2 separate regions of the Homo sapiens genome follow, and region 2 is linked to region 1. Evidence: fine-mapped expression QTL. A gene starts in region 1. The other region holds a variant in brackets. All regions are shown on one strand. Distances are between the middles of the regions.

Region 1 (2,916 bases):
ACTCCATCCTGGGAGACAGAGTGAGACTCCGTCTCAAAAAACAAAAGGGGGTGGGGGGTGGGGAAGACAGCACTGCTTAGATATTAGAAAAAATCTGAGATTTCATTGCTTTTTCTATAAGTTATAAGGTGATACCATGGAACTGTGGGCAAGTCCCTCAACAATCTAAGCTTCCATTTCTTGATCTCCAAAACAGTGGCACCGAGGTTTGCCTTGCTTACTGCCTTGAGAAGTTCAGGAGAGACAGTGCTTGTGAAAGTGTGAGTCAATTACTATTTGTTTTCTTGCATGTGGCTTGTAAGGAAGTCAGATAACATAAGAGAAGTGAGTGACTGAGTGTTAAAGTGAATTACCAAGGATGCTGGAACTTGAAATGCTTTTGTGTGTAGCAATGCAGGCCGAGCTGCCACGTGCTATCCTGTGTGTCCCCGCTCTCCCCGCGTTGCAAGCCCGCAGAATGCCCCGCATCCACTGAGCCGTGGCCAGCCCTACGGTGGGCAAGCCTATCAAGCGCAAACATTGGGAGGGTTCTGACTCTCAAGTGTCTTACAGAAAATAGAGCCAGGAGCTCCATCTGGCACTCCATTTGCTAAATGTCCCATTGATGTCAAACGCCAGGAAATGTGGCTGTTTAAAATCCCAGGGAATAAGATTTCCACTCAGCAGCTTTCTAATGTACGCGCAGCACTCTGCGAAGCAAAAGCCCTTGCTGAGCAGTCTGGTCACAGCCCCTTACACACAAGCTCTCTGGGCCTCCACTAAGAAGTACAAAGACACAGGGCAGAGGAAAATGGACTTATCAGCTCCAGTGGCTTAAAATATGCCGGATGCCAATAGAGGGCACTGTTGCATATCCACAAAAGCCCACGCTCCGCAACCTAGCAAGACCACCAAAGCACTCACCTCCTTCCACACTCTGGCTGCAGTCCTAATGATGAACAGGAGCGATTAAAGTGGCAATCCCACAAAACACGGCTTCTGGTCAAAGTTCATGACTGCTTCATCACCACTTTGATATTTGCAAAGGGGCTTCATGATCATTTTCAGTCCTGAGTCATCTCCAGTACTTTTCTGCAGAATGCTAGATCTCTTAGCTTCACTTTTCAGAAGACTGAAATCCAGAGAGGTTAACTAGATGACTTGAGCCCATTCAGTCCAGAACTAGACAGAGATAGAAAACTCAGGGTTCCTGAATTCTACGCTGGAGAGTTTTCAGAACGGTGCATTGCGAGCTTTGAATGAAAAACATCAACAGCCTGCATCCGCTCTTGACTCTTTAGGGGAGGTTGTATGGCTTGGTGATTAACTGGGACTTCACAGGCAGGACTCCTGTCCCCACCACCTCCTAATTGTCGTTTATCCCAGTGGAAGTTGATAACTGATAACCAAACCTGCAAGTGAGGCCCATTCTGCAGCCCAAGAAGGAGTTAGGGAGGGATAGGAAACAGACACATAAAATCAGGCCAAATAGTGAAACTGATTGGAGTGCTTTGGGGTATCAATGTTGTATCCTAATTGTCCTTTATCACAGTGGAAGTTGATAACTGGTAACCAAACCTGCAAATGAGGCCCATTCTGCAGCCCAAGAAGGAGTTAGGGAGGAATGGAAAACAGACACATAAAATCAGGCCAAATAGTGAAACTGATTGGAGCGCTTTGGGGTATCAATGTTGTATCCTTCAGCGATCCCTCTCAACTATTAGTTAACTGAGAACAGATTGCCCCGAACTTGGGAGCTGTCAGATCTGTTTCTTGCACTCTCCCACCATTGACCCCTGACTCCTACAGAATCTCATTTTGCATCCCACATTCTGAAGGCATTGAATCATTTTTTTTGGCTAAGCACATGTTGGCTCTGGAGTCGCCTATATACAGAGTCTTTGCTGCTGCATTTGAGGCCTGGTGACATGTTATATTATGTAATGTTCTGGCAGTTAAGGAAAACTCACGCCCTCCCTGTTATGTATGAAGTGTCATCTCTAAAGCAGAGACTATTTCTTGCAAAATGGCATTGATAAATGGATAAACGAAACCAACTGACAACATCCCCGTAACAATGCAGTATCCTTCACTGCCAGTTTATTTCTAGAACACCATTAGGCAAAAAAGAAGGCTTTGTGGCCTAAGTAGGTGTTTTCATATATTTCGGAATGACAAATTAAGACGACAAGGATTTTCAGTCAGGCCATGACAGTAAATGTGCGCTTGTCACTTGTTGTAATGCTGTCCGGCAGGCCATAAGGGCCAGGCTTTACTGCATGGCACATTGGGGAGCCAAATCTCTCTGGTGGCATCTTTCTGTCTGGCACCTCACTCAAGTTAGAAAACTCAACCTAGAAAAGACTGTTGGTCCCTACATGGGCAAGTGTTACTTTCGCTATTACTAAACCCTGTGCCAGTCTTGGGGCAGTCGGAAAGGGTGGAGGAAAACAGGGTGCTTTGATGGCTCTGGCCTGGTCTCAAGTGACACACCCTAATCTGAAGGGTTTGTGCCCACATCCTCTCCGCTGCAGCTGGGTGGCTGTTGGCAATCACCTTTGCAAGCACTTGTGTGTACCATGCCAGCGGTTGCTCGTGCCAATTAGAACTCAGCTGGATCTTGATATAAATGGGCCATAGGCTAATCGTTCTGGGATACATCTTAAATTAGTCTGAGAGAGTCAGAGACCACTGTAAAACCATTTGGCCCAGAGTTTGTGCAAGTTTCTCTGATCCAAAATGGCACCTTGGTATCCAGCTGTCTTGGATGCAGACAACTCTTTCACCTCGGGTCATCATCAAATGCCAAACACAAAAGAAATCCTAACCTCTCACTTTACACAAGAGGAGGCCAAGGCTCAGAGAATTGTAAAGACTTGCCACCAGGTTGTGGCAATGTGCAGTGAAGAACACAGTCTATTTCTGGCATCAGAAGGG
Region 2 (2,916 bases), 79 kb after region 1:
TTTCAAAATATTACCCAAGCCCTGGCGGGGCACACAACTCTCATTAAATTCAATGGGGGTAATCCAGCTAAATCCCTTCTTGACTCTTAAAAATAGCAGGAAACAATATTCTGAACTTAAAACAAATTTACAGCCTCTGAGAGCAAGTACCAGCTGTGCTTGCCCAACCCATCTTGCCTGAAGTTGGATCATTAGCACCATATGTATGCATAAGGATTTAATTTTTATATCTGGTATTCCAAACTTCTATAGAGCAGTTTAACTCACTTGTTCATAGACTAGTCTTTCAGTCTAAACAAGCAGAGGTGCTCAGGCCCATACAATCGTAGGTGATGAATATACTCCGAACTGCTGCAGGAATGCTGGAGGAGCCTCAGAGGGTTAGAGCTCTCGCCAGAGAGAGCTAGATTAAAAATGTAAGGATCCCATCACTTGCTGGCAGAGCATTAACCAGCTTTTATGCATCTGATTACATAAAAGTATATAAATATTATATGCCCATGGAGTTTATTATATTGATGAGAATCAGCAAGATGAAATAGTAAGACTCTGAGTTGAGTCTATAATAGCAAAATGGAATTATGATGAAGGTTTTGAGGTCTCATTGACTGCTGCTTGTGATGATGCTTGAAGAATCTGGAGCCTGCAGAACAGTGTGGATCAAAGTATCAGGTGACTCAGGCCACTGGGTCAACTCTTCAGAGTTAGACCTGACCCCTGGCTTGAAGCATGCTCAAGTCCCCATGCAATATTCTGGGCATTGACTTAGCCAGAAGGTGACAATCAACAGAAGTCCTTCCAGGAAGGTCAGACAGCCCATTACCCACAAACAGAGCACTTGGAGTCCAGATTCATGACTCAGACAATGGAGAAACAGGAAAGCAAGTCAATTTGAAAAGAACTCTGCACTGACTGTGAAATGCAAACCGGACCTGACCACCCCTGATCAGTAGACCCGCGTGGTTTGGATTGAACTTGTTCAGATGGTGATAGCAACGGGTCCTACTGTTTGCAATTTGCATACCTGCCCTCTGACCACAGTAGACTCTGTGACAGGACCGACTGGCCCCTCTGAGAAGCCATCCCTTGAGTGACCTTGAGATTGTGCACAAATCAAATGTGTTAACAAAACCGCTCCTGCTCTGACAATATTGACCTTCAACATTCAGGGAAGATTACCTAGATTTGGAATCTGATAGAACTTTCCATTTTCTACACAGCTGTTGTTCACTTTTATTTTTTTTAACGATCCCTACCCCCTTTCATAGTCAAGGAGAAGAGAGATGAGATGAAACAAATTAGCTGGCGACTTCATAGTGGCTTTAATTACCTCTCTGGTAAGAGAAGAAACTGCAACAACAGCTAAAATGTTTGTTATATGATCAGAACTTCATTTGTTCACCTCACCCCTCTTCCCTATCCCAGAAAGGACATAGAGAACCAACTGGTGGTCACTACCCTTCATCCACAGAAAATCTTCCTGAGGGCTGAGAACTTTCAGGAAAGGTACAAAGAAAAGGAAAGGCACGGCTTTTTTCATGAGATACCTTCAGCTATGGGAGGTGCCTGCGCAGTCTTTGAAAGCCACATTTTACAACTTAAGATGTGTGTAGGACGACACCATTTTCTGAATTTAGGCAGTGACTCTTCTGTTTCATCTCTTGGTTTTGTAGAG[G/C]GTGTCTGGGCTGTGTGGTAGCAGGAATTTTGTCAACCTGAACATGCTACAGGGCAGCTGGGGGTTAAGTTTGACCAAAGAGAAGTTTGTTTTGCAGTTTAATCAGGTCAACAGTGACAGCGTCCTTTAAGGAAGCATACTAATTAGGGCGGCCCTTTCTACTTTCTGCCTAGCTGGGTAGTGTCATACCATAGAGGAAACATTGATATACACCACACGCCCCATTAATAAATGACTGCAGAAGCCAAGACTGAGTGAGCTTCAATAGAGGAAATGGGAGAAAGCTGGAAAACTGACCTGTTCACCTTAGTCTAATGATTAACTTTAAAGTATTTAAAACCTCTGATTGCTTATACTGACTGTTTCCCTTCATGTACGTCTGCCGGGAAGAATTTCACAGGATACTAACAAAACACAAAGGCCAGTGAGAGGAAGGCCACCGTTTAACCGTGACTGGCCCCTGATCGACAGCAAACCGAGGGCTTTAAAAGTCGTTACGCTTTTCTATTAATAAAAGGATGAGGAGGTGCTGTTCCCAAGGGTGTGCTTCTCTCTGTGCACAATTATAAACTCTGGTTTCCTGAACCCCGTTTTGTGGCACGCCCACTGGAAACACTGTTGTAAAACTGCCAACTCCATGGCAGGCAAAACTGACAAACTTTGCCTGCCTGGGTTTTGCAGGATTGGGATGAAAATAAATAGTCGGGCTGTGCTGCCTGTGAGATTTCCTTCTCCTGTAGTTTGCAAACACAATCCATGTCCTAGATGTGCTGCGTTTAAACAAAGTATGTTACTCCGTTCCTTCAGTGGAGAGCTGGGATTGTCACCATTTGGCAATTACTGATGGAGAAGGAAATCTCACTCCCTGCTGCATATACATGTGGATGAAAGGAAAGCAATATTTATGGCTCATGCTTGGAGACCAGATGCTGTGTGGCATCTCTCCTTCTAGGACTTTCAGAGAAACTGAAAGCGAGGAGCGCAGCCGCGGAGAGAAGAGAGGTACATGGAATCTGTCACATTTCGTATTTTATTTGATACCTGATTGTATGGTGCTGTCTATGACCGTGGGCTTTTCTGTGGCCAGCACAGTGGTGCCACCTGAAAAACAAAAACAGGAACATGCAAAAATAAGAAAACAGTAGCGAATATGCAGGAGAAAAATGTATGCTTACAAATGTCTATCAGAGGCAAATATTTTCCATAGAAAAATCCTTTTAATTTCAATGATAGCAATTGTT

Evidence for each region. PIP is the estimated chance that this variant, and not a neighbour inherited with it, causes the effect.
Region 2: its variant is the best candidate, but not a certain one, in a credible set for the expression of IATPR in whole blood (Lepik 2017, PIP 0.52).

What each region holds. Positions count from the first base shown.
Region 1 is chr10:33,115,568-33,118,483 of GRCh38, forward strand. IATPR (ITGB1 adjacent tumor promoting lncRNA) reads right to left here and starts at 1,240. Exons shown (of 3, transcript NR_160030.1): 1 at 904-1,240.
Region 2 is chr10:33,194,934-33,197,849 of GRCh38, forward strand. It overlaps NRP1 (neuropilin 1), which reads right to left. Exons shown (of 17, transcript NM_003873.7): 12 at 2,717-2,776. Among named protein-coding and RNA genes, the nearest start is that of IATPR, 80 kb to the left of the region's middle. The variant G/C (reference allele first, on the strand shown) is at 1,676.